Linked DNA regions of Homo sapiens. The protein of the gene in region 1 interacts with the protein of each later gene in a pairwise test. Each region holds a gene or a part of one and is shown on either strand. Other genes may lie near its edges. The genes, in order: ANXA7, HUNK, PAAF1, CCDC90B, CPNE2, TAF5L and KLHL23.

Region 1 (3,500 bases):
ATGAAGTTTGGCTTTTATTAATTCATTATAACACTTTCAGTACATTTACTTTCTCAATTTTATTAGACTTAGAATAATTTTAAAATTAGAATGCTTTCTGATGGAAAAAGAAAGTAGGGTGGTAGAGTGTGGTTAGTCTGAGATTAAGGAGGCATTCATATATTATCTATTCTGTGATAATAATGGTGATCAAAAGTTGATAGTCTTCTGATCAGCAAACATAACACTGGAAATATCTTTTAAAAACTGCAGTCTGTACCAGAAAGTTTGAAAGTTATGTTCTTCAAAAGGTGCTCATTTCCATTTGGAAAAGTAAACAATAACCTGCACATCAAGTGATGTTAAGACATTACTATTTTTTTGGTGTGATAATGGTACTATGATTTTCATCAAGTATTCTGATCTTTTAGAGATACACATTAAGTATTTACAAACAAAACGATACGATGTCAGGGATTATGCCAAAATAATATGCAGGAATATTCTATATAATATAGTGCAGGAATTTAGACATAATAAGCAGTCAGGAGTTGATAACTGCTCACGCTGGGTGATGAGTACATGGGGATTCATTACACTCTCCTGTCCATTGTTGAAAAGATGGCTCATGTAAAATAAATGGAGCTAGTGTGGATAAAGACAAATATCCCTATATATATATATATATATATCTTTTGCATTTGAAGAAAACACTATTAACCTAAAGCAAATGTAAATAAACAGAGAAAAAAACAAACATTCAAAAGAATACCCTCTTAGCCTGATCAAATCTAAAACACGGCCAGGCGCAGTAGTTCACGCCTGTAATCTGAGCACTTTGGAAGCCAACGCAGGTGGATCACTTGAGGTCAGAGACCAGCCTGACCAACATGGTGAAACCCTGTCTCTATTAAAAATACAAAAATTAGGGCCGGGCGCGGTGGCTCACGCCTGTAATCCCAACACTTTGGGAGGCTGAGGAGATCACAAGGTCAGGACATTGAGGCCATCCACGCTAACACAATGAAACCCCATCTCTATAAAAAATCCAAAAAATTAGCCGGGTGTGGTGGCATGTGCCTGTAGTCCCAGCTACTTGGAAGGCTGAGGCAGGAGAACCCCTTGAACCCAGGAGGTGGAGGTTGCAGTGAGCCAAGATTGCACCACTGCACTCCAGCCTGGGCCACAGAGCAATACTGTCTCAAAAAAAAAAAAAAAAGGCTGGGTGCAGTGGCCCAGGCCTGTAATACACCCAGCACTTTGGGAGGCTGAGGTGGGCGGATCAACTGAGGTCAGGAGTTCGAGACCAGCCTGGCCAACATGGTGAAACCCTGTCTCTACTAAAAATACAAAAATTAGCCAGGCGTGGTGGCATGTGCCTGTAAGCCCAGCTACTCAGGAGGCTGAGGCAGAATTGCTTGAACCCAGGAGGCAGAGGTTGCAGTGAGCCAAGATCACACCACTGCACTCCAGCCTGGGTGATAGGGCAAAACTCCATTTCAACAACAACAAAAAAATCTAAAATACTATTAGTGATCAGATATAATATACCTGGCAAATACATCTATATAAAGTCAGTAATCACTTTTTTGGCATCTACAAGAAAACATTGCTACAAGTGGAGAGTGAATGATCAAAGGTTTAAACCAGGCTTTTAAAGGTGCTAGACACAGATAGGCAAGAAAGTAGAACAATGTTATTTGCAAGGCAAAAGGTGAGACGTAACTGTGAGACGGATGATCACCAAAATAGACTAAGGAGCAGATTAAGACAGAAGTCAATCAGGAGGCTTTCTGTATGTGTATAATAAAATACTCGTCATTCTCCACCACACCACTCTTAACATCCTTTATCTGTCAATAGCACCACTACTTAAATTACCTAATACTCCAGTATAGTAAGAAACCCAGTATTTTTCTCTTCTTTTTTTTTTTTGAGACAGAGTTTCGCTCTTGTCACCCCAGCTGGAGTGCAGTGGTGCAATCTCGGCTCACTGCAGCTTCCACCTCCTGGGTTCAAGCAATTCTCCTGCCTCAGCCTCCTGAGTAACTGGGATTACAGGCGCCCACCACCACACCCGGCTAATTTATTGTATTTTAGTAGAGACAGGGTTTCGTCATGTTGGCCAGGCTGGTCTCGAACTCCTGACCTCAGGTGATCTGGCCGCCTCGGCCTCCCAAGGTGCTGGGATCGCAGGCATGAGCCACTGCGCCCGGCCAAAACCAGTGTTTTTCTATCCATCCTTTGAAATGCCTCTTCTGTAATTTCTGTTCTCATGGTCATATACTTAGACCAAGTTTCATCACTTGATGCCTGTCTTACTAAAACTCCTCCTCTGTTTATATTCTTGCTTATACTCTGTCACCCTCCCAATTTTCTCAGACACTGTCACTAGCTAAACTTTCCTAAAATGCTGCTCTTTCAGCAAATTGCTCTTCAGCTCAAAAATCATCAATGACTACTGCTGGAGTATCAAATGAAAATTAATTGGCCTGATATACAGGTCTCCTTAGTACTGGCTCCAATTATTATTATTATACATATATTTTTGAGATGGTTTCTTGCTCTATCGCCCAGGCTGGAGTGCAGTAGTGTGACATCAGCTCACTGTAGCCTCGAATTCCTGGGCTCAGATGATCCTCTCATCTCAGTCTCCTGAAGAGCTAAGACTACAGGTGCACACAACCATACCTGGCTAATTTTTTGTATTTTTAGTAAAGACGGGGTTTCGCCATGCTGCCCAGGCTGGTCTTGAACTCCTGGGTTCAAGAGATCCACCCGCCTCAGCCTCCCAAAGTGCTAGGATTACAGGCATGAGCCACCACACCCACCCTCTATTTATCTATTTAACTCATTTCTTACCAACACCTAACCCTCAACGTGAAATCTCTATCACTTGAACCATTCCCAGCATTCCTTTGCTTAAGCCATTCTTATCATTAACTGACTTGGCCCTCAAGCCTGGGCTTACTCACCCCTCCTATCTAGCTCAAGTCTCCTCTCTTCCTTCTTTGAACAACGTAGTTGACTAAAATAGTGTTTCTCAATGTTTTCTTTTTGAGACAGTCTTGCTCTGTTGCTCAGGCTGGAATGCAGTGGCACAATCTCGGGTCACTGCAGCCTCCACCTCCTGGGTTCAAGCGATTCTCCTCCTTTAGCATTCCAAGTAGCTGAGACTACAGGTGCGCACTACCACACCTGCTTAATTTTTGCATTTTTAATGGAGACGGAGTTTCACCATGTTGGCCAGGCTGGTCACAAACTCCTGACCCCAAGTGATCTGCCTGCCTCAGCCTCCCAAAGTGCTGGGATTACAGGCGTGAGCCACTGTACCTGGCCTCAAACTTTAATGTGTATATGAATCCCTAGGGATCGTGTTAAAATAGAGATTTTAATTCAGTAGCTCCAGGATGGGGCCTGAGATTCTGCATTTCTAAAGCTTTCAGGTGATATGGATTCTGCAGGTCTGTGATTCACACTCTGATACCAGAATACTTTGGGATTTCTGGATCTACACCTAA
Region 2 (4,025 bases), on another chromosome or scaffold:
ATGTACTTGCAGTGTTTGCCATGACGTTGTGAGCATAAAGACTCGCTTCTTTCCGTTATGTTTAGAGAGGAAATATGCACAACCAGCCTGAATCCTATACGTTTCCAATGAAAATAAACTTCCATCGCCAGTGCCAACAGGAATTTACACAGGGCCAGGAGAAGAGAGCTCACTCTAATTAGCCGCATCCTCGCGCCCTGAACGGACCCGCAGTGTGGAAGTCAGACAGCTCACTACGAATCGAATCGAATCGAATCGAGGAGTGTAAGTGTGCCTCGCTCCTGCGGACTAGAACGAGGTTTGGAGGTTTTTCCTTTTTCTTTGAAGACTTACTCAAGTTCATACTGAACGCTCCTTTTTTGCATGGGAATTCAGGCAGGAGGCACTTCTAAAAACTACTCACTCTATCCCCACATACCCATAATAAAGCGGTGCCTCACTCAAAACGGCTGTAGGGAACACAGGGAAAATGACAAGGGTGACGGAGACCTGCATTCACAGGCAAAAGGCTCCAAGACAAAGAGGGGAAATGGGGTGGGGAGGGAACTACAGGTGGGGTGAGGCTAGAGACAGGCAGGAAGGGCAGGTTGGCCCTGTGACCAGGGGTTTCACAGGGCAGCCCCAGGCTGGGCAGAGGCCCCCAGGTCGGAAGGCAGAGGGCTCGGCTCCCAGGCCACCTGCTCGGTTGGGAAGTGAACTCCGCCTTCCCTCCTTGCGGCTGACGCCTCCCTGACCCACGGACCACACAAAGGAGCTGGTCCCCCTCCAGGTTTGAGCCACCCCCAGCCTGGGGGCAGTCTTGAGCCCGAGATGACAGGAGCTTGGGACAGCTCCAGCCTGGATTGGCTCTGAGCTCGGGCAGCTCCAGCCTGGGGTGACCCGGCCTCAAAAGCGAGTCACCAAGCTCTTGGGTTTCTTCTCACAGCTCTAAGTTACACCTTCCATCTTACCTGCCCCTCGCCTGGCAAGGGTTCACAACCATCTAACTTCCAACAAGGCTGGAGAGGTGCCCCTTTTGGTCTCGCGGAGGTCCCCTTTCCTTTCCCCTCTTCTAGAAAGATAAGAAGGCATCTCCCAGTCTCTGGGGGGAGGTATCTGTAGTTCTGTTCCTGCCAGTAGCAGGGTCTTCACTGCAGCTCCCACCCTGAGGCTGGAGGGCACAGAGGAGCTGGGGGAACGGAGAGAAGGGGATGAGAATGGCGGGGATGAGAATGGTGGGTGATGAGGGGGCAGGGGTGGGAGGGTTGAGTGGATAGAGAGGAGCACAGGTTGAGGGATGGACAAGTGGAGGGCGGAGGCAAAAACCCTCCTCTGAGCACGAAAAATTCCCTAGCTGCCAAAAAACATTCCCTAGCTGCCGGAGCCCACAGGTGGGAAGGAATGCAGGATCTCAGCCTTCTCCCACCTCCTCCGAGAGCCCAGGACGGGGATCAGACTCTAAGCTCCCCCCAGAGGCTGGCTGTTAGCTTTCCTGCCCCCCCCGCCCCCCGACATAAGAGCCCACCTCCTCTAGCCCTGGTTCCCGCCTCGCCACGGATCCGCCGCCCCTGCCGGCCTGAAGGGCAGAGGGGCCCCATCCCGCCCCCCGCGCTAGTGTCGCCAGGCGGCGCCCTTCCACGAGCAGAACGGCCGCGCGGGACGCTTCCCGGGGCAAGGCCGTCCCCTCCCAAGCCCCCAACCCCCGGGCAGCGGACCGCAGGCCGCCTTCGGGAAAGGCTGCGAGATGCTGAGCGCGCGTTTTAACCCAACAGGAAAGCCGGGCGGAGGGGGAAGGCGCTTGGCCCGGGACTGCACACTGGGACTCCCAGTGCAGTGCTCCCCGCGGGGTCCTGGCCGCCGACTCCCGCCCCTGTGCCCCAGCCCCACGGCGCCCGGGAGACTCACCTTCTCCCCGGTCAGCACGTGCAGCCCCTCGCGCACCTTGGCAAAGGAGCCCTCGCCCAGCTTCCTGCTGCCGATGAGGTAGTTGCCCACGCGCTTGTGGTGCTGGAAGTCGCGGAGCCGCTCGCGGGGCACGCCGCTCACCCAGGCAGGCAGGAAACTTCCCTCGCAGGCCGCCGCGGGCCTGGCCGCGTCCTCCGCGCCGCCGCCGCCCCCAGGCGCCGCCGGCTCCCCCAGGAGCCCGTCCCCCGCCGCCGCCGGCATCGCGCTCGCCGCGGCCCGCGCGGCTCCTGCTCGTCTCCCGCGCTCGCAGCTCCTCCTCCCCAGGCTCTTCGGCTTCCCCGGCTTCTCCCGCCGCCGCCCTGGGCCCAGCCCCGCCTGGGTCTCCGCACCCAGAGCCCGGGGCCGCCGCGATCACGCCCCCCGCGCCGCCCAGCGAGGCGCGTAGACAATAGCGGCTGCCCAGGGGACGCGGGACCGGGGACCCCGCCCCCAAAAGTTCTTCCTCTTAGGGTCGCCCGGGCCCCTTTCAGGACACCAGGATCCCGCCCCGGGTCCCGTCCAGGAAGCTAATGACAGTCGCCCTGCTCGGGCGCGCGGGGTGGGGCGCGGTCCGGCGGCGCCTGGGTCCCGGGGTCCGGGTGCCTGGGTCCGGGAGCCCGGGTGCCTCCGCAGCCTCCGCCTCGCCGCCGCCGTCTGGCCCGCACGGGCTTGGGTCGGGCTCCCGCGATCGCTCCTAGCCGTGCGCTGGGCGGCCGCTCCCGCCGGAGAGAAGCGCGCGGCGGGCTGCCGGCGCCCTCTGGAAGGCAGCAGAAGAAAGCCCCATTCAGTTTGAATTTGCAGAAATTTAATCCGCTCGCGGGCGGCGGGAACAGATGCGAGCTCCACTCCGCAGCCCGTGCACTTTCAAATCCCTAGTAGCCCCTCCTTCCCCGCGCGCCACAGTCAAACTCGACCCTCGCTGGAGAGGGGAGGGCCCGGGGAGGGGAGCGGCGGAGTGGACGGAGAAGCCACCTGAGCGCCAGACAGGGAGAACCTGCGCGGCCTCGGAGGCGCGCGCTCCCGGGCCGCCCAGGTCGGGCCGCCTCCGGCTGCGCCTCTTGCCCGGATTCTGGGCTTGGGTTTTCTGGACCTTTCGGCGGTGAAATCCCCCACTGGCCGCACCCACCCGGGGCGGGGGGAAGGGGGAAGGCTCTCGAACTCCGTGGACTGTGAGTCGGGTTGCGTGCCCGGCCCTGAGTCCGCCACACAGTAGGGCCCCCTGGACCGGGGGTGGAAGGATAGATGGATGGCTGGAAGAAAGGGTGGGGAGGCGGCCAGGCGTCTGCCCGGGCTCGCACGCAGCCTGGTTGGCTGTGTTGGAGGAGGCGCAGCCACAGCAGTAATAGTAGCAGCAGCAATGTAGGAACCAGGGCGTTTGCTGCCTCTGCTTGTAGCTTACACCTTCTTTGCCTTCCATTGAAATGATGCCTGTGATTGCAGGAGGTGGACCGGCGCTCGCCTCTCTTCGATGCTTTTGTTCTGCAAGCGCTGTGACTGTGCTCATCGCATAAACAATTGCAACTGCCCTGACGACACTGGACCCTCTCCCAGGATCCCCAACGTCTTCTCAAACCGAAAATGAAGAATCTTGTGAGGGAGAAGGAGGAGGGTAGGTAGGAGGAGGCATTTACAAAATGCTACCTGTTGAGGTGCCCGCATTTGATGGAAACTTCACCCCGATCATGCAACATCAGAGCTGAAAGGAAGGATTTGGTCCTAACAAAGTTCCTTTCATTGTTTATTCCTGAGTAAACAAGTATGACATCGACCCATAGCAATGCTTTGAGATTGGGAGTGGGGGGTGGGGGAACAACAGCTGTCATCAATCCAGTGTCTGGGGGTCTCGCTGACCCATCTGAAGAGGGACGCAGAGAAATGCCTGCTTTCAATACATCTAATTTTAAATACGCTACTATATTCATCCACCTACCTGTTACAAGTCACCAGCCTCAGTTATTATGACGGAACATACTGCGTTTTCTGTTGTTCTGTCTCATTGTTCCCGTTTACCAATATTAAAGATACAGCTTAAAATGTTTTTCTTGCTGTGCTGAAGGGACTTCTTTGCTCCCACCGGCCTTGACTATTTCAGTAACGTTCAT
Region 3 (3,500 bases), on another chromosome or scaffold:
TGCAGAGATCACATGGTGAGAGAGGAAGTAAGAGAGAGAAGGGAGATGCCAGGATCTTTTTAACAATCAGCTTTCTCAGGAAAGAACAGAGTGAGAACTCAGTCACTCTCACTCTCCAGGGAGGACATTAATCTATTCATGAGGGGTCTGCCCCCATGACCCAAACACCCCCCATTAGGCCCTACCTCCAACACTGAGGATTAAATTTCAACATGAGATTTGGAGGGGTCAAACATACACACTATAGCACTAAACTCTAATTTGAAAGGGAATACACTTTCAAGACTAAAATACATTTTCTTTTTTTTTTTTTTTTTTTTTTTTTTGAGATGGAGTCTTGCTCTGTCGCCCAGGCTGGAGTGCAGTGGCGTGATCTCAGCTCACTGGAATCTCCACCTCCTGGGTTCACACCATTCTCCTGCTTCAGCCTCCGAACAGCTGGGACTACAGGCACCCGCCACCATGTCGGCTAATTTTTTGTATTTTTAGTAGAGATGGGGTTTCACCATGTTAGCCAGAATGGACTCGATCTCCTGACCTCGTGATCCACTCGCCTCAGCCTCCCACAGTGCTGGGATTACAGGCGTGAGCCACCGCGCCTGGCCTGACTAAAATACATTTTCAAGACTAAAAGCTAAGAACAAAGATTTAGAGATTTGATACAGCATTTGTAGAGAGGGCTTTTAGAGTGATCTCAACCTGATGTAACTGGCTGTGAAATGTAATTCTTCCAGGATGAAAGGTGAAGATCAGTATGCATACATGTATTTATCTACAGTATATACACATAATACATAGTAAAGAATTAAGCTTCAGTAACCTGTAAAATTTGCCTAAGTAGAATACTGATTTTGCAGAGATATGGGCTAAGTAAGATACTATCCTACACATAAACACACGCAGATGATAGAATGAAGTTAAAAACTGTTTCCATTCTTCTTCTACACCTTATATATTCATGTCTATAACAGCCCATAACACACTGTTTACATGTCTGACTTGCCCAACAGACTGTGAAGTCCTTAAGTCTAGCAGGGTGCTACATTCATTTATTATTCAGTAAATAAATGTTGAGCCAAACTGAAGTTACAGGAGAGAAGCAGAAATCATCATGGATTCACACAAGAGTGGGAGGGATTTTTTTTTTTTTTTTTTTGAGATGGAGTTTCACTCTTGTCGCCCAGGCTGGAGTACAATGGCGTGATCTCAGCTCACTGCAACCTCCACCTCCTGGGTTCAAGCAGTTCTCATGACTCAGCCTCCCAAGTACCTGGGATTAAAGGCACGTGCCACCACACCTGGCTAATTTTTGTATTTTTAGTAGAGACGGGGTTTCACCATATTGGCCAGGCTGGTCTTGAGCTCCTCCCCTCAGGTGATCCACCCACCTCAACCTCCCGAAGTGCTGGGATTACAGGTGTGAGCCACCACGACCAGGCCGGGAGGGCTTTCTAGAGAGTATAGGAGCCTCAAAGAAAGATAGGAGCTGGCTAGGAAGAAAATAGGGAAAAGAAAACTCCAAGTCAAGGAGGAGCATATCAAGAATAAAAGAAAGTCAGCCGGGCATGGTGGCTCACACCTGTAATCTCAGCACTTTGGGAGCCCAAGGTGGGTGGATCACAAGGTCAGGAGTTCAAGACCAGCCTGGCCAACATAGTGAAACCTCTTCTCTACTAAAAATACAAAAATTAGCCAGGTGTGGTGGCACGTGCCTGTAGTCCCAGCTATGATACTCAGGAGGCTGAAGCAGGAGAATACCTTGAACCTGGCAAGCAGAGGTTGCAGTGAGCCGAGACCACGCCATTGCACTCCAGCCTGGGTGACAGAGTGAGACTCCATCTCAAAAAAAAAGAATATCACGCCTGTAATCCCAGCACTTTGGGAGGCCGAGGCGGGTGGATCACGAGGTCAGGAGATCGAGACCATCCCGGCTAAAACGGTGAAACCCCGTCTCTACTAAAAATACAAAAAATTAGCCGGGCGTAGTGGCGGGCGCCTGTAGTCCCAGCTACTTGGGAGGCTGAGGCAGGAGAATGGCGTGAACCCGGGAGGCGGAACTTGCAGTGAGCCGAGATCCCGCCACTGCACTCCAGCCTGGGCGACAGAGCGAGACTCCGTCTCAAAAAAAAAAAAAAGAATAAAAGAAAGTCAAAAAGAACAAGAAGGAAGGATTCATCAATTAATACACCAGTTTGGTAATAGCAGTCATGGAAATGATAGTTGAGGGATAAATCCCAGAGAAACTCAAAGTCTAGGGTAGAAGTTTGGCCTAGAGAAGACCTAGTAAAGACGCTTTTCACAGGGAAGTATCATGAAGCACTATTTCAGAAAGATGCCACAAAAACAGAACTGAAGCAACTTCACTTTTTATCCCACTCCATGATTCCCTATTGTGTTTACCAACTGCCTTAAGAAGTCTGGCCCTCATGGTGCATCATTTCAACCAATCACTCAATGACTTCTCCACATTTGTGGATGTATATATATGTATTTTTTTAATATTTGAGACAGGGTCTCGCTCTGTCACCCAGGCTGGAGTGCAGTGGTATGATCATGGTTCACTGCAGCCTCTATCTCCCAGAATCAAGGGATTCTCCCGCCTCAGCTTCCTGAGTAGCCTGCATGCCACCATGCCCAGCTATTTTTTTTATTTTTATTTTTAGTAGAGACAGAGTCTCACTATGTTGCTCAGACTGGTCTCGAACTGCTGGGCTCAAGCAATCCTTCTGCCTCAGCCTCCCAAAGTGCTTGGATTACAGGGTGAGTTACCCTGCCCAGCTGACTTCTCTACATTTGTGAAGTCACTAAAATGACCTCAGCCTTGGTTTTCTCTATATAATAGCAGAACTAGGATCAATCCAACCACTTACCTTCTACATTCCTACATGCAGGCTGCTGAGTACTGCTCCAGAAAAGAACACAACTGTGCCGACTGTCACCAATCCAATTCATGTTTCTAAACTCAGCAGTTTTGTAATCCTTTCACCCCTCCCATTCCCCACAGCAGCTGGTTCTCATGCCATCTATCCTGCCATCAAAATCTCCTTCCTTCATAATAGCCAAAAACTAGAAATATGTGTCCATTAATTGATGAATGGATAAACAAAATGTAGTATATCCATACAACAGAGTATTACCGGGCCACAAAAAGGAACGAAGTACTGATAAAAACAACAAATAGAAACATTATACTAAGTTGCCTGTAATCCCAGCACTTTGGGAGGCCGAGGTGGGAGGATCACTTGAGGCCAAGAGTTCAAGACCAGCCTGGCCAACATGTCGAAACCTCGTTCGTCTCTACTGAAAATACAAAAATTACCCGGGTGTGGTGGCAGGCGCCTGTAATCCCAACTACTCAGGAGGCTGAGGCACAAAAATCACTTGAACCTGGGAGGTGAAGGCTGCAGTGAGGAGCCGAGATTGTGCCACTATACTTCAGCCTAGACGACACAGTGAGACTCTCAAAAAAAAAAGAAAGAAAGAAACATTATACTAAGTGA
Region 4 (3,500 bases), on another chromosome or scaffold:
TTTAACCTAGAAACTCTAGTTTTTTTTCACTTAATTGGAATAATTCTGCACATATTATTTCATATGCTTTTTTCAATTAACATATCTTGAACATTCCCCATATCAGTAAATATTTCTCAAACAGTATCATTTTTAGTGACTATAAAATATTTCATTGTATGGATGGTACATCTATTTAGTTACTTTTGATTGTTCATAATAGTGATATTGTCTTAACTAGGCATTATGAGTGCTATTAATTTTCTTCTTTCAGGAGGTATCCATGTTTCTCACCATGAGTTTCCAAGTCCTGAACCAATGCATGGGTATCAAAAGTTAATTTCCTTTGTTCTAAAGGAGTTATATCCACTGGCCGCCTATCATATCCCTCCTTGGTTGTGGTAGTGAAGAACTCTGAAAGAGAAGACAATTTTTTTCTTTTGTAGTAACTGATAGCTTACAAAGCTACTTTAGCTTACAAAGCATTTTCCCCATCCATTTATAATATAGTTCCAGCTCTTCTAGTTTTGTCATCTCACCCAAGTTAATTGACTCCTCTGAGCCTCTCTTTTATCTGAAAAGTCTCTGACGTTCTTCTGTACACACCAAACATTCAATAAATGTTTCTTTTCCCTCCTTTGGTATTCAGAAATGTTAAGAGTCAGTATAAACTTGTAATAAAACACACATCAAATGCTTTGGTTATCACCACCTCAGCTCTAATTACTGAAAAGCAGAAACTGCACAATTCAATTCTTCTCTGTGCTCAGTAATAGTCTTTCAAAGAGCTATGAAAATTTTTTACACTTAATCCCTGTTTAAAGTAGCTTTCCATACTCCCACTCACTTATATATCCACAGTTTATTTCCTACGTAGTTCTCAGCTCCAACATGAAATTATCTTATTTGCTGTTTGTATCTCTGGATCAGAATGGAAGTTCCATGATGCTTTGACTGTGGTTTTCACTACTGTATCTTTAGCACGTAGAACAGTGCTTTGGCACATAGTTGGGCCACCAAGTTTTACTGTTGATTCAATCAATGAATTTGATTTGAAATCATGGACGTATTTACTGGTATCAACATAAGAACCCTAAGAAAAATTTCTCATTTCTGAAATAACCCTTCTTGTCCTATTTCAATAAATTCCCCAAGTTTTAACCTAGACACAGTAAAGACCTTTTCTATATATTGCTGATGAATTTATTACAAGGTGCCCTGCCCATAAACAACTTTTGGGAAGGTGAAGGAGTTACCTTTACAGAGCCAATGGCAGAATTAGGATTCAGACTCAGGTACTTCTGACTCCAAATCTTACACTCCATGCTGTCTCTCTTATGTATCTTAAGTCACTTAAAATATCTAGATATTTAAAAGGCTGCAACTTCAGGCATTATTTTTCCACTAGTACTGTGTAGGACAAATGTGATTCCTTCTTTATATCCTTCTAGCCTAATGAATATTGATTGAGTGCTAGAACTTGTGCCAGGCATAGGGGATAAAATCATAAGCAAAACCAGACATAAATGATATTCTCACTGATTTTATGGACTAGAAGGCAGGAAACAGATATTGTTTTTTTTAAAAAATCTAACAATAAACTCTAAATTCAAATGATAAAAGATTCATTAAAATACTCCAAAAAATTCTATTTAACTGAAGAGATAAAAGCAAGTAGCTGTAAATAAAGGTGGAGCAATTTTTAAAAACACACATATTAGTACACTGGTCAGTAATCTTTTTCACTTGAATGTCATCTAGAAGGGTAAAGAACTATGCCTTTGTGTGTAAATATCAGACCTAAGGTAGGAGAGAAAAAGAAAAATTAGAGGAAAAAGGGGCAGATTTCAGTAGTTTCAATAACAACTGCATTAGGAGTAATGATGGTACTCTTAGTTACATATTCCTGATTAGAAGTTTATTTGGATTTAGAAAAAAAAAATCAGTAATAATATTTAAATAATATTTTACTGTTTTCACATCTATTACCCCATCCTTAAAATTCTCATTTTATGGATGAGGTAAATTGAGGCTCAGGGCTAAGTATGGATGCTCCTCAGCTTATAAAAGGGTTATGTCCCAATAAATCCATCATAAATTGAAAATATCCTAAGCTGAAAATGCATTTAATACACCTAACCTGCTGAACATCACAGCTTAGCCTGGCTTACCTCAAGCTTGTCGAGAACACTTACGTTAGCCTATAGTTGGCCAAAATCATCTAACACAAAGCCTACTTTATAATAAAGTGTTGAATATTTCATGTAGACACCCAGATGGGCATTTTGTAAACACGATGGGATGCAAAAACAAAACCCAAAAACCCTGGCAATACTAAGTATTGGTTGTTTGCCCTTGTGATCAATGGCTAACTGGGAGCTGCGGCTTGCTGCCCCTGCCCAGTATTGCAAGAATACTGCATTATCGTTAGCTTAGGAAAGGATCAAAATTCAAAGTACAGTTTCTACTGAATGCACACTGTTTTTGCACCATGGTAAAGTCAAAAATTTTTAAGTTAAACTATCTTAAGTTGAGGACTGTCTGTAATTAGTCTGAGATCTTATGGTCTCATAGCTAGGCAGATTAGTACAGTTCCTCTGACTTAGTCAACAAACACTCTGAATACCAGCAGCTTCCTGCTAAATTTGGGATAGAGACCAAATACCTTAACAAGCCAATAAATCTTTGTAGGGTGCAGCTCGTCTCATGTCCTACTATGCTCTCTCTGGTCCTCTGCTTTCAAGGGCTCTTTGATTTTAATTCCACAAACATGCCATGTGCTTTCCCTTCTCAGGGCCTTTGCCTAGCCCCTGCCCTGTTCAGAAAGCTCTCCTTTTCTTTGCCTGCTCATGTTTATCCTTCAGAGCTCAGTCTGAATGTTTCTTCCTCTGGAAAGCCTGATGACTCCTTTAGGTTATGTCTCTCTCATGATGGTTTTTCATAGTACTGCACAGGATTCTTTTGCAAACCCTCTCATAATTTACACATTTATGTGACTCTCAGTTGTCTCCCCAAGAGACCAGCAGTCAGCCAACTATAGCCCATAGACTACCACCGCCTGTTTTTCTAGTTTTATTCATTAGAACTAGATAGTTTTATTAGAACACAGCTCATTCATTTATGGATTAATCTATGGCTACTTTCATGCTACAGTGGCAAAGCAAATAGTTGTGACTGACCTTACAGCCTACAAAGCCTGAAATATTTATTAGGCTCTTTACAGAAAGTTTGTCAACCCCTGCACTAAACTATACAGTCCTTGAGAGCAGGGACCACATCTGTTCTTGCTCACTACTGAATCCCCAATGCCTACACAATTCTGGATGCTCCATAGATACTTGCTGAATGAAAGGCACTGTGCTTGGCATTATGTATACACAATGATGAATAATACAAAGGAGAAGCATTTGGCCCTCCTTGAGAATAAAGGATCAAGAATGGCTATTTGGATGATGGTAGAACTATATTAAATCTGAGAGAAGTTATCCAGACAGGATGAATGAAATCAGCAAAATCTAGGC
Region 5 (3,500 bases), on another chromosome or scaffold:
GCCAACATGGGAAAACCCCATCTCTACTAAAAATACAAAAATTAGCCGAGCATGGCGGTGCACGCCTGTAGTCCCAGCTACTCAGGAGCCTGAGGCAGGAGAATCACTTGAATGTGGGAGGCGGAGGTTGCAGAGCCCAGATTGAGCCACTGCACTCCAGCATGGGTAACAGAGCAAGATTCTGTCTCAAAAAAAAAAAAAAAAGTTATAGGCCGGGCGCGGTGGCTCATGCCTGTAATCCCAGCACTTTGGGAGGCCAAGGTGGGTGGATCACGATGTCAGGAGATTGAGACCACCCTGGCCTCTCACGTGAGGCCTCTCACCCACCCTCTCACGGTCTTTAGTAGAGACCGTCTCAAAAAAAAAAAAAAATTATAAAATAAAATCAAATAAATAAAAAATAAAAGCTCTTGGTCCCCAGGGGCTGGGTCTGAGAGCAGATGGGACTGGGGAGACAGCTAGGTCAGGACAGAGATTCCCAAGTAGGATACCAGGAATCTTAGGTTCTAGTACTGGGTCTGCTACTGCTGCTGTGAGACTTTGGGCAGGTACATCTCTTTCAGGGCCTCAGTTTACCCATCAGTGGGATGGGAACAATAATCCCTGCCTTCCTCCTAGGAGGGCCATAGCAGCTCAGACAGCATATAAAGCTGTGATTTCTGTGCTCATCTCAGAAAAAAATATGTCTAGAGAGGGCCCCAGGCCATAAGCTGGGTGGGTCACAACCCGAGGTGGAGGGGGAGCCATTTGCCAGGTGTATAAGGAGTGGAGTTGCCTGCACTAGAGGGTACAGCCTCCATCAGTGGGGCAGACACACTTTCTCCTTTTCCCAGCAATCACAGAAGTCTTCCTGCAGGAGGCAGTTCAGGAGCTATCCAGGCCAGCTAGGCAGATGCTGAGGAGAGGCACTACCCAAACAGAAGACAGAGGGTTTGCTTGGGGAGTTGAGAGGGGCTGGAGAGCACCTCTTGGGGGACAGCTCTGGGGTGACCGTGCTGAACCCACCCCAGGTCATGTGCTACGACTATGACAATGACGGGGGCCATGACTTCATCGGCGAGTTCCAGACCTCAGTGTCACAGATGTGTGAGGCTCGAGACAGCGTCCCGGTGAGATGGGCACGTGTACTGTAACCCCAAGACCTCAGCAGGGCTGGGGGAAGGGGCACCGGGTCTTGGGTCAGGCAGCCTGGGGCTGAGATCCCCCTTCTGGCTGCATGACCTTGAGCAAGGCATTCAATCTAAGACTCAGTTTCTCCATCTGTCAATGGGGGCAGAGGATTTGGGTGGGGATTGAATGAGATGATGCAGGCGAAGTGCCCAGCATATAGTGAGCAGTCAGGAGCTATCCATTTAAGTCATTCCGTGATGTTGGGCCCTCAGCTGGACAGTTTGGGGGTGCGTTATCTGGGGAGGAGGGAGGCAGATGCTGATCCTGCTACCATTTTTGGGTGTGGACATCCTGGGAGGCTCCCTGGAGGAAGCATGCTGCCCCCATTGTCAAGCCTGTGGAAGGGATTCTAGGGCCAAGGAGGAGGATCTGTTTCCAAAGAAGCCCCGAGGTGAGTGTCTCTTTCTTTTGCGTTGCCCAGCTGGAGTTCGAGTGCATCAACCCCAAGAAGCAGAGGAAGAAGAAGAACTATAAAAACTCGGGCATCATCATCCTGCGATCCTGCAAGGTGAACCAGCGTGGGCAAGCACGAGCCAGGGGCCAGGTTTCAGGCCACACAGAAGGGACAGACAGAGCACTGGATCTGGAGCCAGCGAGGCCTGTGTTCAAATCCCGGCTCTGCCACATCCTGGCCCTATGGCCTTCTGAGCTTCACCTCACCAGGCCTCAGTCTCCTCATCTGTGGAATGGAGATATTAACGAGGCAGAGCATGTCCAGGGTTACTCTTCTCTCACATTCCTGTGTGGAGGCCAGGGAAGGCACGAGCTGACCTTCCAGGGCCTGTCCTGGTGGGAGAATTGTCATTGCGAGTTGCTGCCGCCCACGGTGGGCATGCAAGGGGCAGAGGACATTGGGTGGGGACACCCTGTCCTCTCTGGCATCAGCGTCACTGTGACTCCCATGGTACAGCCGGGGCCACTGAGGCCCAGAAAGGCAATGAAGTTCATGTCAGCAGTGGCCAGGCTGTGGGTGGGGGCCAGAAGACCTGGTGGGCAAATAACTGCTGGATCTGGCAGAACATTAAGGAAGGCAGCCTGGGGCAGGAGAGCAAGAGACCTGGGCTCAGGGCCTGACAGCTCAGGAGTCTGGCCGCTGCTCTCCACCAGCAGGTGGATCCCAGACTCCCACCTTATTTGGAGCCTCGTCTGGCTAGGGTTTACACGAACATTCAGTGGTGTCACGACAAAAAAGCACTCCGTTAAAGGTCAAGATGTCAGGTTGCAGCCTTGTGATGGATGGTCCTTGTTTCTGAAGTTTCCATCATTCACATCACTTTTCACAATTTCTGGCACCTGCCTTACTTATTTTTTTGAATCAGTCTTTCTTCCCTGTATTATTGTTTTTTGTTTTTGTTTTTGAGACAGAGTCTCACTGTGTTGCCCAGGCTGGAGTGCAGTGGCGTGATCTCAGCTCACTGCAACCTCCGCCTTCCAGGTTCAAGGGATTCTCCTGCCTCAGCCTCCCAAATAGCTGGGATTACAGGTGCATGCCACTACGCCTGGCTAATTTTTGTGTTTTTAGTAGAGATGGGGTTTCATTATGTCGACCAGGCTGGTCTTGAACTCCTGACCTCAAGTGATTTGCCTGCCTTGGCCTCCCAAACTGCTAGGATTACAGGAATGAGCCACTATACCTGGCCTGTTTCTTTTCTCTTTTTTTTTTTTTTTAACTTAAATACATTTATTTAGAAAGAGATTATTAGAACTCTACCAAAATTAAAAGATCTGCCTTCTTTGCCAAAAAGAGACAAAGACCATCAAAACAACTTCTAGAGGAAGGCCTTGAGCTGGAGGCCTGCTCTTTCTCTTTGTTAAAAAGGTAGATTAATAAGGGCCAGGAGAAGGTAAGTACCTAACAGTGACAAATTGAGACACTCTGTGTCAGGTAACTGACACTGGGCCCTGGCACCCTGCCTGGAACCAGCATGTGTCTGTGTATCTGTGGGGTGTGGGGGTCTCTGTGAGTCCCCCACCCATTAGGAACCATTGCACTGAAGGCTTTGTTATAGAGAGATTTGGGTTTTGTTGTAATTAGATCAGGCCCATCAGCTTTTTTTGACCTCCTTGTCCCTACTGAGGTTGCAGGACATAGAGCAACAACTCCCCCATGGGGAGTGTGACCAAGTCAAGGGGACCCACTGACTCATCCGCTTTCTTCCAGATAAACCGAGACTACTCCTTCCTTGACTACATCCTGGGAGGCTGCCAGCTCATGTTCACCGTAAGGCTCTCCCCGCTGGCTCCCTCTGCACCCCCATCCCAGTGAGGGTCCTCCCTGAAGACTTGGGCCACTAGTGCAGCCAGAGGGACTTAGGGTAGACTTCAGGAAG
Region 6 (3,500 bases), on another chromosome or scaffold:
GTCAGCAGCCTGCCATCACGTATTTCAGGGTTGGATCCACCCATTATTCCTTGCCTTCAAACTCCTCAGAGATACCCTTGACCAAAACAGGGCCAGATGATGGCCTTGGTATAGAATACTAAGTGCCTTATTGTTTGAATAGGGGAGTCCATTTACAAGGCCTCTGTCCCATTGTAGAGTAATTCCTTCTGAACATGCCATCCTAGCCATTTAAAAAATCTGCTGCCCTGCATCCTTTGGAACCAGAGAGCAGTAATTCTTGCTGTTGTTGATAGAAAGTAGGAATGAACAATATTAAACAGACTTCCAGAACTTTGCTCGTCTAAGTTGTCTTAGTTTCAATAGAATAGCTTATTAGGAGAAAGTGTTATTGCTGGAAAACCACCAGGAAAAGTGAGAAACATGAAATATGATTATCAGAAGATTTTGTCCTAGATTTTTCCATTAATTGAGTAATCTGAAGAATTCTTTTTTCAGCAGACATTTAGTGAACATCTGCTATAGGCCAAGTGCTGAAAAGTTCTAGAGATAGCTACGATTTGACCCTAGCTCTGAGAAGCTAAGTGTTCTAATTGGGAAGTGAGGCAGGTAAGTCAGTGATTGTAGAAGAGCATGAGGTAGTAAGTTCTGTGAGGGGGAGGTTCAGTGGTAGCAGAAAAGATCATCCAAATTAGGCTGGCAAGCCAAGGAAGGATCCCCAAAAGGCCTTGTGATTCCTGACATATAGTTGGGGGTCACTAAATAGTTGAAAGAGTGAGCTGAGTTGCAAAGGAACCATTAGATGTTTACCAGGGAACAAATTGGAGGAGGGTATCCAGGTTTTCAAATGTGAATTTTAGAAAACTCAGTCTGGTGGCAGTATTGATAAGGCAGCCCAGATTAGAATCGAGGAAACTAGTTAAAAGACGCAGTCCAGTGAGAAGTGAGGACAGCCTCAGTTGAGGAAGTGGTAATGGGAGTGGAGAGGAGAGGATATATTTTAGGAATCTGTAGGACTTAGTGACAGAGTAACTAAGCGGGGGGCAAGAAGAAGGAGGAGGAGTCCCTCCCTTGCATGCAGGCTTGCAGCAGGTCCTCTCTTCTGACTGTCTCTTCCTTCTCCTGGAGTAGGTTGGCTTTCCTCTCACCTGTGTTTCCCTTTCTACGTATTTCCTGTTATGGCGCCCTCAGTCCTGCCACATTCATCACCATTTCTCCATCCATATTCCATTGACAAAATGCATTCATGTTTCATTCAGGACGCGGTTAAAGGTGGCTTCCCTTGGTTTTTAGCCACCTTCTTTCCCCGGTGTTCCCCACTCCTCTTGTAAACAGGAGGAGAATGGTTTTTGTTTTTTGTTTTTAGAAAGCATAAACTCACAGATTGGAGATTAAGTGTGTGTTTACATACTGAATATTGAGACTCCAGCCTTGTTTCCCCTGCACCAATTCATATGCCCGGAATACTGCAGCCAGGCACACATGCTCCAGGAAGGCAAGTAAACAATCCTTCCCTGGTGAGTCCAACTTGCCCAAGAAGAAAGACGAAAAGACAGTGATGTTGGGACATTGCTCACCCTGGTCACCCTGGAGGATGAGCCTCACCACCCAGAGTGCCTCACCGTAAGACAGCCAGGGGCCATTGAACCCTAGAAGAAACATATCTCATAAGAAGGGCAGATGGAAAGAAACAGAAGAAAACTTCAAAAATACCTTGTTTTAAATACTTAAGATTCAAAAAGCATAGCGTGTTTAGGGGAAAAGAGAATGTTGAGAATGAAAAAAGTTACCAATTAGATACATGATAGTAAAAAATAAAAACTCATTAGGTATTATAAGTAATGTAGGGGGAAATAGTAGAAGGGCTGAAGGGTGAGGAAGGCTTTCAGAAAGTAGAGCAAAAAGACAAAGAAATGGAGTAATAGGAGAAAAAAATTAAAGGATTGGTTCAGGATATCCGACCTTGAAATTGTAGGAGTCTTGGAAGATAGGGAATTATCAAAATGATTCCAGAAAACTTCACAGAACTAGAAGACATGAATTTCCAGATTGAAAGGGCCCACTAAGTGCCCAGCACAGTGATTGACAATGAACCCACACCAAGGCACCTGTGAAATGTCAGAACATAGGATCAAACATTTCCTGATGAATCTCATGGATTGATGTACCTGTCCTCTCTCATTCACCTTATCCTGTGCTTTATGCCTTTCCTTCCCTGGCCTTCATTTTATTGGGCTTCAGGAGGGAGGGGAGAGAAACAAGTGTCATCAGTCTGTCATGTTTAACCAGGACCCAGCATGCTTTGGAAACCTGCTGAAATGTCAGTTGCTGTGCGTGTGTGCACAACACCCTCCTTCACCCATCCTGCCACGTACTGGGTTAATAATCGTCTCTCTGTTTCCCGCCCTGACTTGTGTATCTTCTCCTCTTTAGTGCAATCAGAATCTGGTTGTGCCAACATAGTGTCTGCAGCCCCTTGCCAGGCAGAACCCCAGCAATATGAAGTACAGTTTGGACGACTGCGGAATTTTCTCACTGGTAAGTACTCAGCTCTAGAACCTTTTCTTTTTAAGAAAACAGAGTAATACAGACCAACTTTGGGCACACTGCTTGTGAGTTAGCCCTGCTCCACAAGGAGCGGTAAAAAGAAAAATTAAAAAATAGAGTAATGCAGATTTCCCTCAGAACCAACTATATTCCACAATTGGTTTGAGGTACTAGGGATTCGAAGGTACTCTTAACACAGTTCTTGCATTCAAACTTATGGTCTATTGGAATTCCTGAAGAGTTCAATCACGAGGTTTAAGTTTACAAGGGCAGAGCTCTGGGTGTTTATTCACTGTTTTATTCATGGCCTTCAGCACAGTGACTTGTGACTTGTATTGAATAAGTAAAAACTGTCAGCTATGCAGAGAAGCATCCTTAAATACAGCACATTTGAAATGTACATGACATCTCTACTAATAATATAGTACATTTCACAATGGTCTTTGCCCCGTATTTCCAAAAGTGCAAGTAAATAGTCCTTATGAATGAACAGGCAAAAATGCTAGAAGTTGTCATTTAGACCAGTTTTTGAGTGGCAGAATGACCACTTGAGATAAGAATAAAAAAGATACTGTAGAACATTAGGAAGAAAAACATTAAGAGCCCCAGAAGATAAATCGGAAAGGGATGTGAACATAAAAATTTACACCAGGATAACTCACTTTAGCAATCAACCGAGTGTATTAATACTTCACTGCAAAAATCATTACAGTTCTGTAGCAATAAAATTATGCCATTGAGTTTATTTTATTATACACCTATGCTTCAGTGATTAAAAAAATACAAAAATGTATGTAATGTCATTAGGGTCATCTGAGTGTCACTCATAATAGAAATAAGTCATGACCATGACAAGAGCCATCTCACTGTCATGAGTCAGAATATACCACTATTAAAATTATACATTTGGTGATTTACTTTTGTGTCTGTTTTCCTCATTAGACTATATGCTCCATGAGGGCGGGGACCATATC
Region 7 (3,500 bases), on another chromosome or scaffold:
AAACTCCTCCTGGGCTCAAGTGATCCCCTGCCTCAGCCTCCTAAACTTCTGGAATTACAGGCATTACTGTAGACTTTATATAGCTTATAAAAATACTTTCTTTTTATCCTTATTCTATAAGCTTTTTTTTTTTTTGAGACGGAGTCTCGCTCTGTCACCCAGGCTGGAGTGCAGTGGCACTGTCTTGGCTCACTGCAAGCTCAGTCTCCTGGGTTCACGCCATTCTCCTGCCTCAGCCTCCCGAGTAGCTAGGACTACAGGCGCCCACCACCACGTCCTGCTAATTTTTTGTATTTTTAGTAGAGACGGGGTTTCACCGTGTTAGCCAGGATGGTCTCAATCTCCTGACCTCGTGATCCACCCACCTTGACCTCCCAAAGTGCTGGGATTACAGGCGTGAGCCACTGCGCCCGGCCTCTATAAGCTTTTTTATATTATATATATATATATATATATATATAACTTATTTATTGATTTTTTTACTCGTTAAACTTTTTTGTTAAAAAAGTAAGACACAGACATACACATTAGCTGAGGCCTATACAGGGTCAGGATCATCAATGTCAGAGTCATCAATATCACTGTCTTCCACCTCCACATCTTGTCCCACTTGCAGGCTTTCAAGGGCAATAACAGGCATAGAGCTATCCTCTCCTATGATAATAATGCCTTCTTCTGGAATACCTCTTGAAGGACCTGCCAGAGGCGTAGATTTATTTACAACAGCATCACCAGAAACACATGAGAATGCTTTATGCCATGTCTTTAAAACAGCTACCACAGTATCACTAGGTGATAGGACATTTTCCACTCCATTATAATTTTATGGAGATCATTGTGCGTGGTGCATGGCTGTGTTTGTGTGCACGTCTCACCCTCTCTTAAGAGCACAAAGAGCCTTCCTTTTTTATTCTTTTGTCCCTTATAGCACTTAGCACAGTACCTTGCATTTTACCATCAGTAATAACAAAAACAACAATAAATTTAGCCCAGGGTTCACTGCAAAAAAGAACAAAAGATCAATCTAAAGATGTGATTTTAATTAATACGTAGGTGTGGGAAATGCTACTGCCTGTGTCTTACATGATGTTATCTACGTCATTGGTGGCCACTGTGGCTACAGAGGAAGCTGCACCTATGACAAAGTTCAGAGCTACAATTCCGATATCAACGAATGGAGCCTCATCACCTCCAGTCCACATCCAGGTAACAAAAATACTGTCTCAAATAGTGTATGTTGTGATGTAGTTTAGTAGCATAAAGGATGGCTAAAAATGGACTGGAAATAGAAAATGCTGATTTTATTGTAGACTACACATGGGTAGAATTAAAAGTCTCAAAATATTCATATATGTCCATCTAACAATAATCACAATGAGATTCTGATTGGGTCACATCTACAAATATTTTCCCTGATGTCTTTATACAATGCACATTGTAAGTCTGTGTGGTCAAAAATATTAGCGTCTTTAAAATTTTTTTCCTTTATATGCCATCTTTCATTTATGACATTAATTATATAAAATACAATGTTCATAAGTAGTTGAAAAGCACCATTCTATCAAATAGTCAGAAAGGGTACCCAGTGATTGAAGTTCAGCTAGAAATTGTTTCCTGTTTTAGAAGCATGTTCTTTCTAGGTTTCACTTACTATTAAGCACTCACTCCTACAATGTGCAGAGCCATATGTTGGCCTTACCTTAACACTCATACAGGGAACATGCTGTCTGCCCATAAGGAATGGCCTACCTTCTTGGATGTCTTCTGTTCTTTGACTTGTGTCTTTGTGAAGAGCTCAGAGGGAAGCACAAGTTTTAGTCTGTTTCAGTTATGCCATAGGTTTAAGTTGTTTTCATTAGGAAAGATTCATATCATCGTACCACCATGTTACCTTGAATCATTTTCCATAGAGCATCAGGCTTCCATGTGGGTCAGTGGAGGGGGTAGTGGAAATTCACAAGCTGGAACCATCTGAGAGGACTAGTAATACTTACCATAGATCAGGCACTGGCTAAGCACTTCATATGTGTATTACCTCAGATTCTCACTACAAGTCTGTGAGCAGGTATTGTTTGTCACCATTTTACATATTTGGAAATGGAGGCTTAGAAACAATAAGTAACTTTTCCAAGGTCACAGTTTCACAGTTTGAAAGTGGTAGACCAGGGTTCAAAATCTGACAGTCTGATTCCATAACTTGTGCTGTAGCCACTAAACAATCTGTCTCTCCTTCAGGGAGCAGACTCTCCTGCTTTCAACCAAGGCAGCTACTTCCAGCCCATACATCATCTATCCCATATGATGGTTAATCTGAAGCACACCTAAATCTGGTGCTGCATCTCCATATGCCCAGGCTTTGCATGAGAAGGAACTTTAGCCCCAGGCTTCCCTGGCTGCAAAGACACCATGGAATGGGTAAACTTCTCCCTCCTAGTAGCCCAAATGGACCATCCCAGACTCCCCACCACTTTCTGCTGTGATCAGTGAAGTTATAATGGAAAGGAATAGTAACAACTCACAGTGAGAAATAGCTAGCATTTATTCAGTCAGTGTGTGGCAGGCACAAACTATTCCAGTAATTTTACATGTATAATCTGTTTAAACCTCAAAATAATTCCATGAGCTAGGTACTGTTTTTATCACATTTTATAGGACACTGAGGGTCAAAGAGATTATATAAATTGCCCAAGGTTAGCCAGCTAGTGCTTATTAGAACTGAGGTTCAAACCTAGACAGACTGGCTTGAACTTCACTATTATCTCACCTGAACCTCATGTTACCCTTAGAAGTTAGATGTTACTCTGCCTATTTTGTGGATAAGCTTATCTTTACAAAGAAAATCCGATACATGAAAAGTCAGAATTCACAAATTAGAGGGCAGTTATTTATATTATAAATTTAATGTATATGTCATTAAGAGTTTCCCTCAAAAATAAGTTTTCCATAACAGATTTCATATAGCTTATTAACTACATGAAAAAGAGTCTGAGAGACAGTGTCACTTTGGACTTAATCCAAAGTATTAATAAGTCATGGCAAATTGAAAATCCAAAATAAATGTTAAATTATAATATAAATCAATGGTAACATAATATGCATCCACATGTAGTTTTGATTTACATTGAACTTTTTCCTGATGAAACATAAAAAACAGATTTTAAATCAGTACCTTGCATGATGTGTTCTGTTTAGCTTTCACAGTCCTTAAAATATTTTTGAACTGGCTTGTTACCAATATTTAAAATTTAAGAGAATTTCAAGTAAAAATCATTATTTCTGTCCTTTAAAAGAAAAGGGAAGACCTAGCAGCCTTGGATGTATTCCTTCTAGGCAGCAGTCACGGGAGCCAGGGGGTAGCTGTTCCCCTAAATGAGGCTTGTGTGCTCCGTTTCACCACAGTCCTTCCAATTCTCCTCACGTCACTGACCTAGGGGGCCTGTGCCGTTGTTTTTCTTGCTCCCAGCTGGCTTTGCTCAGCTAGTCTGTTAAATCCTTAAGCT

The links.
Region 2: the proteins of ANXA7 (region 1) and HUNK interact in a two-hybrid assay, tested with the Homo sapiens proteins (one large-scale study listed by BioGRID and IntAct).
Region 3: the proteins of ANXA7 (region 1) and PAAF1 interact in a two-hybrid assay, tested with the Homo sapiens proteins (one large-scale study listed by BioGRID and IntAct).
Region 4: the proteins of ANXA7 (region 1) and CCDC90B interact in a two-hybrid assay, tested with the Homo sapiens proteins (one large-scale study listed by BioGRID and IntAct).
Region 5: the proteins of ANXA7 (region 1) and CPNE2 interact in a two-hybrid assay, tested with the Homo sapiens proteins (one large-scale study listed by BioGRID and IntAct).
Region 6: the proteins of ANXA7 (region 1) and TAF5L interact in a two-hybrid assay, tested with the Homo sapiens proteins (one large-scale study listed by BioGRID and IntAct).
Region 7: the proteins of ANXA7 (region 1) and KLHL23 interact in a two-hybrid assay, tested with the Homo sapiens proteins (one large-scale study listed by BioGRID and IntAct).

Annotation. Positions count from the first base shown.
Region 1 is NC_000010.11:73,404,059-73,407,558, forward strand, and holds part of ANXA7 (annexin A7), read right to left. Parts: intron 1-3,500. UniProt on the Homo sapiens protein: Calcium/phospholipid-binding protein which promotes membrane fusion and is involved in exocytosis.
Region 2 is NC_000021.9:31,871,795-31,875,819, reverse strand, and holds the start of HUNK (hormonally up-regulated neu tumor-associated kinase), read right to left. Parts: upstream 2,801-4,025; 5' UTR 2,146-2,800; coding exon 1,885-2,145; intron 1-1,884.
Region 3 is NC_000011.10:73,883,499-73,886,998, reverse strand, and holds part of PAAF1 (proteasomal ATPase-associated factor 1), read right to left. Parts: intron 1-3,500. UniProt on the Homo sapiens protein: Inhibits proteasome 26S assembly and proteolytic activity by impairing the association of the 19S regulatory complex with the 20S core.
Region 4 is NC_000011.10:83,279,868-83,283,367, forward strand, and holds part of CCDC90B (coiled-coil domain-containing protein 90B, mitochondrial isoform 1 precursor), read right to left. Parts: intron 394-3,500; coding exon 274-393; intron 1-273.
Region 5 is NC_000016.10:57,120,083-57,123,582, forward strand, and holds part of CPNE2 (copine-2), read left to right. Parts: intron 1-1,010; coding exon 1,011-1,109; intron 1,110-1,591; coding exon 1,592-1,678; intron 1,679-3,331; coding exon 3,332-3,391; intron 3,392-3,500.
Region 6 is NC_000001.11:229,609,123-229,612,622, reverse strand, and holds part of TAF5L (TAF5-like RNA polymerase II p300/CBP-associated factor-associated factor 65 kDa subunit 5L), read left to right. Parts: intron 1-2,412; coding exon 2,413-2,517; intron 2,518-3,500. UniProt on the Homo sapiens protein: Functions as a component of the PCAF complex. The PCAF complex is capable of efficiently acetylating histones in a nucleosomal context. The PCAF complex could be considered as the human version of the yeast SAGA complex.
Region 7 is NC_000002.12:169,740,332-169,743,831, forward strand, and holds part of KLHL23 (kelch-like protein 23), read left to right. Parts: intron 1-1,053; coding exon 1,054-1,206; intron 1,207-3,500. Other genes in the region: PHOSPHO2-KLHL23 (kelch-like protein 23), read left to right, coding at 1,054-1,206.